Regions from separate parts of the Homo sapiens genome. Here regions 1 and 2 are each linked to region 3. Evidence: fine-mapped expression QTL. A gene starts in region 3. Each other region holds a variant in brackets. All regions are shown on one strand. Distances are from middle to middle.

Region 1 (2,794 bases), 26 kb before region 3:
GAGAAGTCCAGCTGTGAGTCTCTCCCCAAAGCAGCCCCACAGTGGAGCCTTTGGCTGGAAGTCCATGGGCCACCCTGTTCTTGTCCATGGAGGACTCCGAGGGTTCCAAGTATACTCTTAAGACCCACTCTGTTTAAAAATATATATTCTATGTATGCGTATATGGAATTGAAATGTCATTATTGTAACCTAGAAAGTGCTTTGAAATATTGATGTGGGGAGGTTTATTGAGCACAAGATGTATTTCAGCCCATGCCCCCTCCCAAAAAGAAATTGATAAGTAAAAGCTTCGTTATACATTTGACTAAGAAATCACCCAGCTTTAAAGCTGCTTTTAACAATGAAGATTGAACAGAGTTCAGCAATTTTGATTAAATTAAGACTTGGGGGTGAAACTTTCCAGTTTACTGAACTCCAGACCATGCATGTAGTCCACTCCAGAAATCATGCTCGCTTCCCTTGGCACACCAGTGTTCTCCTGCCAAATGACCCTAGACCCTCTGTCCTGCAGAGTCAGGGTGGCTTTTCCCCTGACTGTGTCCGATGCCAAGGAGTCCTGGCCTCCGCAGATGCTTCATTTTGACCCTTGGCTGCAGTGGAAGTCAGCACAGAGCAGTGCCCTGGCTGTGTCCCTGGACGGGTGGACTTAGCTAGGGAGAAAGTCGAGGCAGCAGCCCTCGAGGCCCTCACAGATGTCTAGGCAGGCCTCATTTCATCACGCAGCATGTGCAGGCCTGGAAGAGCAAAGCCAAATCTCAGGGAAGTCCTTGGTTGATGTATCTGGGTCTCCTCTGGAGCACTCTGCCCTCCTGTCACCCAGTAGAGTAAATAAACTTCCTTGGCTCCTGCTCTTGTCATTGTGCTCTGTCTGGGAGGTCTGAGGAGGGAGCAGAGACCCCTCCCCTCACCCTTCTGTGGATGACCTTGAGTCTGCTGGAGTCAAAATTTGGGGATGAAAGCGCACAGTCCCAGGAACCCCATGGTGTTGTGCCACAGCTCCCAGGAATGGGCTTGTGCTGGGAGAGCCCTTAGCAGCATCCTGGTGCGGGCTCCCTCTCACACCACATTTCTCATTTCCAGCAGCTGATGGAGAATGCAAGCAGAGGTTGTCCTCGCTTTTCAGAGGAGGGGCTGGCCGTGGGGTGCTTAGTGGTGCTGTGTAGTGACGGGGAGCACAGGCTGGGAGCCAG[G/C]TCGGGCCCCATTCACATGAGGCCCAGGGCAGAGGCCGAGCTGCAAGGGAGCCCTGGGCTCATTCTACCGGCCCATCCTTATTTTGCAAGTAGGGAAACTGAGGCTTAGGAGAGGAGAACATGACTTGTCCAAGGCCATAGGGTGACTCTGATACAGCGAGTCTGTCCTGACTCTTGGTGCTTTCCACACACATACAGAGGGACCATTTTACAAATGAGGGAACTACGGTTCCCACCCTGGAGGCTGGAGGCCTGGGCTCGAGTCCCACTCAGGTACCCGGGTGCACCATGACCTCAAGTAGGCTTCCTCTCCCGGTCTCGACTCCTGCTGGCCTGGGCCCCACCCCTGCCCTCCCCTGCTCACCTGGCTGGCTATGGCCAGTGGGGGTGAGCCACCCACAGAGGCCACATAGCTCACTAGCCTGTTGCCTTGGGCAACTAATATGACTCCTCGTCGCTCTACTGCACCTGTGACGCAAGTGCAATGAGGGGTGACAAATGGAGTCAGTGACAGCTGCTGCTGTCATTGTCCACCCAGCCACAGCATCTATTGGCAGGGCCCTGGTGAGACCCTGGCCCCAGGGAGGAGTGAGCCAACACCAACCAGCTTCTCCCCTCACCGGCTGTGTGACTCTGGCCAGGTCACTTAACCTCCCAGGACCTCCATCTCCTCCCCTGTAAAAAGCAGTGATGCCTCCTGTTTAGGGTCTTAGGAGGGGTGCCCTGGGTCCAATACTCAGGTGACTTGCCCAAGGCCACTGCTGGTCAGGACACAGGGGAGCCACATGTCTCCCAAGCCTCCCCAGTTTTGCTAAAAACCAGTGGTTTCTGAGAGAAATGTTCCCTGAAAGACATGGGCGTGTCTGGATTAGGATGGACAGGTTGCAGTGGCCCCATGAGTGTTTGGGGATGAGGCATGAGGCCGGGTGCCTGCACCACCGTGGTGCCAGAGGCTCTGCCGGAAGAGCACTCCTGCTCTGGCTGGTAATGTCCACTTGTCAGACAGATGTGGGGCCAACCCAGCTCAGTCTCTCTGTCCCGTGGCCCCCAGCCTGGAGGAGAGACCAGCTGAGCCTGCCTGAAAGGAGATGGTGCCTGAGAAGCACACAAAACAGCACTGGGTGGGGAAGCAGGGACAGGAAGGAGGGTGGCTGAGCACACGGGTGGCTGTGGAACAGCTCGTTGCTCCAGGACGGCACTTGGCAAGCAACAGGCCTGCCTCTGGCCCCCAGTGCCCGCCTGCAGCACCAGCAGATGTGCCCTCCCCAGGGTCACACTGGCTGGGCCTTGAGGCCCAGGACTCTCTGGTCATTACCATAGAGGTTGTAAAGACAGTGAGGACAGCCAGACGCGGTGGCTTACACCTGTAATCCCAGGCTGAGGCGGGCAGATCACGAGGTCAGGAGATCGAGACCATCCTGGCTAACACGGTAAAACCCCATCTCTACTAAAAATACAAAAAGAAATTAGCCAGGCGTGGTGGTGGGCACCCGTAGTCCCAGCTACTCGGGAGGCTGAGACAGGAGAATGGCGTGAACACAGGAGACAGAGCTTGCAGTGAGCCAAGCCGAGATCGCGCCACTGCACTCCAGCCTGGGCGACAG
Region 2 (2,794 bases), 69 kb before region 3:
GCGGTGAGTGGAGATCACGCCACTGCACTCCAGCCTGGGCTACAGAGCGAGACTTGGTCTCAAAAAACAACAACAACAACAACAACTTCTAAAGCCAGCCAGCCAGCTCATCTCCAATGGAACTAATATAATATGAAAGACTAATTATAAACTAATGGAACCGTGCACTGCAAATAATTTGGCATTTCTGTTCTCTAAATGCTAAGCCTGGTCCCGAGGCCACTCTCAACTCCTCTGCCCAGGCACCACCCACCATGCACCCAGATTCCCACCACCAGGGTGCCCGTGCTCCCTCTGGAAGGAGATGAGGGATTAAACGAAGAGGAACAGACAGTAAGATGGAAGGGAAGGCAGGGACACTGGAGAAGAGTCTAAGGAAGGAGCGAGTGACTCTGACAGTCACTATCAGCAAGTCAGCCCCATGAGGACAGGACTTTCTGTGTTTTGTTCACTATTCAATGCCCAGCGTCTAAAAATATTTCTGGAATGCAAACGGGTGGGAGGGGGAGATGCTAGGAAGTAAAAGAAATAGGATATTCCCATTCAACAAACATTTCCTGATTACGTACTCTTTGTCAAGCCCTATGCTGGGTCTGGTGTGGGTGGAAATCAAACACAAAACACAGATCCCCCCGGAGGCCCCAGAGCGATGAAAGCAACAAACAAGATACGACCAGAGATGGGTTTTGAAGGATGAATAGGAGTTAGCTGAGCTGTCAATAGTAAGAAGTAAGGTTGGTCCAAGGCACAGCGCTTTCTGAAGGAACAGGAAGTGAAAGGAAGGCGAGCGGCTATGAGAGACCGCGTTAAGCGGCACGGGGCGCTTTAGGCGCTGCCCAGTCCCGGCCCCTCCAGCCCGGGGCCCGCCGCTCACCACACGCACCGGAAGCGCTCGGTTCTCCCGGAGGCAGACCGGCCAGCACACTACCATCCAGTCACGTTCCGACGCGACGCCGCGGCCGCCAGCCAATCAGTGGCGGCCTCTGCCCCGCCCCCGCGCGAACAGCCAATGACGGCGCCGTCGGGCCGGAAGTTGTTCCGTCCGGACGGCGTTTCCACGGACGCCCAGGAGACAGCC[G/C]GTTGCTGAGCCGGGAGCGCTGACTGGCCCGGCTGGGCAGGGTAAGCGAGGGGAGTAAGGCCGGGGCGGAGTGAGGAAACAAGGGAGGGAGTGATGGAGGGACGCTGGCGCGGCGCCCAGTGGCCTGGCCCTCCCGGGAGTATCCTTAGAGCCCGGCTTGCTGCCCGCCGCGTTCTGGCACTGTGAGGCGCGGAGCCTGCCACCGACCCCTCGCCCCTTTCCTCTGAGCGCCGCCGACCCACCCCGTCTCCCTTTCCCACTGGCACCCTTCATCGTCTCCGCCTGTTCGCTTTTCCCGAGGAGAGAGGCCCCCATTTTTATTTAGCGCCTGCCATGTGCCAGAGGCTTTGCGTAGTGTTGCACTTAGTCCCCTCAACGGTAATGTTAGCAGGCTTCTCCATGCCCATTCCACAGATGAGGAAACCGAAGGGGAAGCAGAAAAGTAATGCGACCCTTGCCCAAGGTTTCGAATAAGTCCAAGCTGGGATTGAAACCCAGGCGTCTGTGACCCCAGAACTCCTGATCTTTCCACTGCACTGTGCCGCCTCGGTGAACAGATGCGGGGAATTTACAGTTTCTCTTTCCACCGCCCACGACTACACAAAATCAGTCACACTGACGCTGAGGGTGGGGAACGGGAAGAGGGTGGGGAGGTTATTTGGAGGCCAGCGGGGGGTGAGGGGTGGCTGATGCAATGACCAGCTAATGGCTCGATTCTCAAGAGGGTTTCATTGGTCTCAACCTGGCCCCCCAGGCAACCCACCCCTGATTGGACAGTCTCATCAAGAAGGTTGGTCAAGAGCTCAAGTGTTTCTGAGAATCTGGGTGATTTATAAGAAACCCTTAGCTGAATGCAGGGTGGGGAGAACGAAAGACAAAAGCATCTTTTTTCAGAAGGGAAACTGAAAGAAAGAGGGGAAGAGTATTAAAGACCATTTCTGGCTGGGCAGGGCACTCTCAGCAGCTCAACTGCCCAGCGTGACCAGTGGCCACCTCTGCAGTGTCTTCCACAACCTGGGTATGTATTGCCATCTTTGCCAGGCTTAGAGCTTGTTCGTGTTTTTAGCAAAGTGCTGAAAACCTTGGTTTAGGGGGTCAGGACTTGTGTCTTAGGATTAGGGTGTTATGCATTTTACTTCTTCCATTGACCCAAAGTTCAGGTGATTCACTGCTCCCATAGGGAACAGAGATCCTGGCTGAGCAGTCGCGGGCTTGGATCCGTAGCTTGCCTCTCAGCACCGTCATGCTGTCTGTCATAATTTTCACTGATGCACCCTCCTTCTGTGCTCAACATCAGAACGTATTGTCATTCTTATTGTGACACCCAAAAGTGTCTCGTGCCTGGCTTCATAGAAATTAATGTCTTTGCCTTTTAAGATAATGTTCATGCTGTTATTTGGCGGGGAAAGCAATCTTTCTTTTAGTGTTTAAAAAAAATGGAACATGATGGGTCCCAAAAGGTGTCAAGAAATCCTTGCTCTAAAGAAGTCATTTTCTTGTCCTCTGGGAACTTGCCAGTCCAAAGGTATTGTCACCTACACTCTGGGGCCAAGATAGAAAGGATGGTATTCTACCTCCTGGTGGTATTCCAGGGATCCAGAAACACTCCTGGGCCACATTCTCTTCTCACCTGCTCCAGAATTGGCTGTCTTGATGCCACCCTTCCCCAGATTGCAGAATCAGCGTGCCCTGATCTCTGTGAGATGATTTTGATGC
Region 3 (2,646 bases):
CACAGCCAGCTCCTGCCCTTTTGGGTCTGGGCTTCTCTTGGGGCCCCCATACCACTGCTTTTCTGGCCCATGGGCCACTCTCCCCCATCCGCACACCTGCCTCCCTGAGGCAACCAAGTGGGTCAGAGAGGCTGTCGATATTCAAACCCAGGCCTCCAGACCCCTCGTTCAGGGCCCACCAGCCATCACGAGCCCTGGACTAGGAGTCAGCAGACCTAGGGTTTGGGTCTCTGCTTAACATTCTACTTAGACTCTAAAAGGAAACTAACATGAGCACTGGGGACCCCTGCCCCTAGCACCAGGCTGCACTACTGACAACACCTACCTGTGTGTCCTAGTACCAAATACACAGAACCTTTCGACCTGCACCTCCAGGAGGTAGGTACCCACTGGAATTTGGATAAAAGAACCATGTGACCCTAAACCTGGAAACGTGGCACACGGTGTGGCCTTGCCTGCCTGCAGGCCCTAAAGAAGGAAGCTGGGCCCGGCCTAAGGCTGATCTGACTCCTACAGCGAAGAGAAAGCGCCTGGCCCGTCCCTGCTCCCAGGCTCCAACCTGACAGTCTGGACCTCCAGAGGCGCTGGGGAAGGGCTGGTGGGAAGTCACCGAATGGGACGCTCCACAGGGACCAGGGCAGTCCCTTGCCACTGCGAATGTCAGGGACTCCTGGGGGGCCGAGTCAGACTCGGCTCTCATTCATCCCCGCAGCCCATGGATACCCTGGTGACCCAGAGCCAAGCACCCTCCGACTTCAGCGCCTGAGCGCGGCCCCTACCGAGCCCCTCCGGTCTCGCCCCGTCCGGCCGCCGCTGACGGAGGCGCTGCGATCTGGCCCGACTCCACTCTGCAGCCCAGTCCAGGAACCTCCCTCTCTCCACAACCTTCCGCGGCTCCCGCGACCCGCAGTCCTCGGGAAGGAGCTGTGGCCCGAAGGCCTGCTGCGCCCTTTGCCCATGGCCCCTTTCCCTTTTAAGGTTCCCTGCTCTCCGCCCAAATCCCAGCCTCAGGCTCCGCAGGAAGCGCCCGTGCGCGTCCGACCCCCAGAACCCGGCGGGTTCGGCCAGGAGTCCGGAAGCCCCGGAGGCCACCGCCGCCGCGGGCGCGCAGGCGGGACGGGCAGAGGCTCCCCACGGGCGATTCCCGCTCGCGGAGTTTCGCAACTAGCGGCGTCCCAGTCTGCGGGCCTCGGAACGTCCCGGCGCTCCACGGCCGTTTTCGCGGCAGGGTCCGCACGGCACAGACTAGGGCGCTGAGGTTCTGCGGCGGCGCCGGACTCCGAACCCAGGGTCCGGTTCCCGACCCGGTCCAGACCAGAGCCACCCCGCGTACTCCGGGTGGGGGAGTCCTCGGCTCAACCCCGCCACCCCGCGCGTCCCCTCCCGCCGGACCTGCGCACCCAGCGCGCTCTTTGTCTGAGGCGTCCCCGCGCCCCGCCCGCGCGCCCACCACGTCCCCCGCGCCCCGCCTCCCGCGCACGCCCGGCCAATGAGGCGCGGCGGCGAAGCGCAGTGCCCGGGGTGTTGTCCGCGCCGTGCCCGCCCATTGGCCTCACTCGGCGCCCCCACCCGGGCCCTGCCGGCAGGCACGAGGGGCGGGGCGCGCGGCCCGAGGTGAGGGACCGCGGGCCGGAGGGGATCCAGCGAGTCAGCTGCCGCCGAGGGACCAGCGCGGGTCTAGCTGCTGCCGCCATCCCCACCATCCCTGACCGCGCCTGCCCGGGCTCCGCGCCAGGAGGAGCGGCCAGGCCCAGCCCCGGCACCGCGCGCTCGGGGACCCCGACGGCGCCCAGCCCGGCGAGGGGCCTCAGGGGGAGGACGAGGAGGAAAGGCGGCCTCGCCGGGGACCCGGCCATGGCGCTGGACTTCTTGGCTGGATGCGCGGGGGGTAAGGAGGCGGCGGGCCGGGCCGGGCCGGGGCGAGGCGTCCGGGGAGGGAGGTCGGCCCACCAGCACGCCCTGGCCTCGCGGCTTCCCGCTGGCGGGGGTCGCCGCGTCTGTGAATGGGGACCACAGTTCTCTTGCCTCGGGCGGGTCTCGTGGGCGTAAATTGACTTCAGGCCCGGGCTGTCCGCGAGGGCAGGTGTCTTTATTCTCTCTGGGCACGCTCGGACGGGAGGTCTGGGGCGCCGGGGCAGCACCGTGGCTGAGCGGAGGCCAGGACTGCCGGGAGGATGCCCCACTGCCCCCCGCGCCGAGGTCCCGGGCTCATCTCCTTCCCCTCCCCCATCCCCATCCGTTGCGCACTGGGAGCAGGGTCCCCTCCCCCGGCCGTATATTTCGGGACTGACTCCACCCCGTCCCGCGCAGCCATCCAGCGGGGTTGGGGCTACGGAGCCGACCCCCTACTCGGCTGGCCTTGGAGGGCACTGAACCACTCTGGCGCCGAGTCACGCCTTGGAACGCCGCCCCTTCCTACGCGGTTTTGTGAGCTGTTGGGGGCGGAAGGGGGGTGGTGGGTGGGTCGGGCGAGCCGGTGTGGGGCACCTTCTCCGAGGCGCGGTCGCGGCTCTGGGGTTCCTCCCATGCAGTTGTCCCCGGGAGGGCCCGGGCGGGCGTGCAGTCCAGGCTCTCCCATGCCCCGACCGTGGGCGTCGGGCACGGCACTTCCCTGTTGGGCCTCTGGCTTCTCTGCTTTTACCTTGA

The links.
Region 1: its variant is fine-mapped to the expression of SLC25A29 in whole blood (INTERVAL, PIP 0.92).
Region 2: its variant is fine-mapped to the expression of SLC25A29 in whole blood (TOPMed, PIP above 0.99).

Annotation. Positions count from the first base shown.
Region 1 is chr14:100,331,844-100,334,637 of GRCh38, reverse strand. WARS1 (tryptophanyl-tRNA synthetase 1) reads left to right here. Exons shown (of 11, transcript NM_004184.4): 11 at 1-848. Among named protein-coding and RNA genes, the nearest start is that of SLC25A47, 9.9 kb to the right of the region's middle. RefSeq lists an enhancer at 1,642-1,691. The variant G/C (reference allele first, on the strand shown) is at 1,191.
Region 2 is chr14:100,374,585-100,377,378 of GRCh38, reverse strand. It overlaps WARS1 (tryptophanyl-tRNA synthetase 1), which reads left to right and starts at 2,032. Exons shown (of 11, transcript NM_004184.4): 1 at 2,032-2,096. It overlaps WDR25 (WD repeat domain 25), which reads right to left and starts at 894. Exons shown (of 7, transcript NM_001161476.3): 1 at 884-894. RefSeq lists silencers at 761-810, 1,001-1,060 and enhancers at 1,571-1,930, 1,941-2,080. The variant G/C (reference allele first, on the strand shown) is at 1,079.
Region 3 is chr14:100,305,441-100,308,086 of GRCh38, reverse strand. SLC25A29 (solute carrier family 25 member 29) reads left to right here and starts at 1,643. Exons shown (of 4, transcript NM_001039355.3): 1 at 1,643-1,888. The coding sequence starts at 1,855. It overlaps MIR345 (microRNA 345), which reads right to left and starts at 228; the gene lies at 131-228. RefSeq lists enhancers at 663-832, 863-932, 2,141-2,646 and silencers at 1,023-1,092, 1,183-1,652, 1,713-1,812.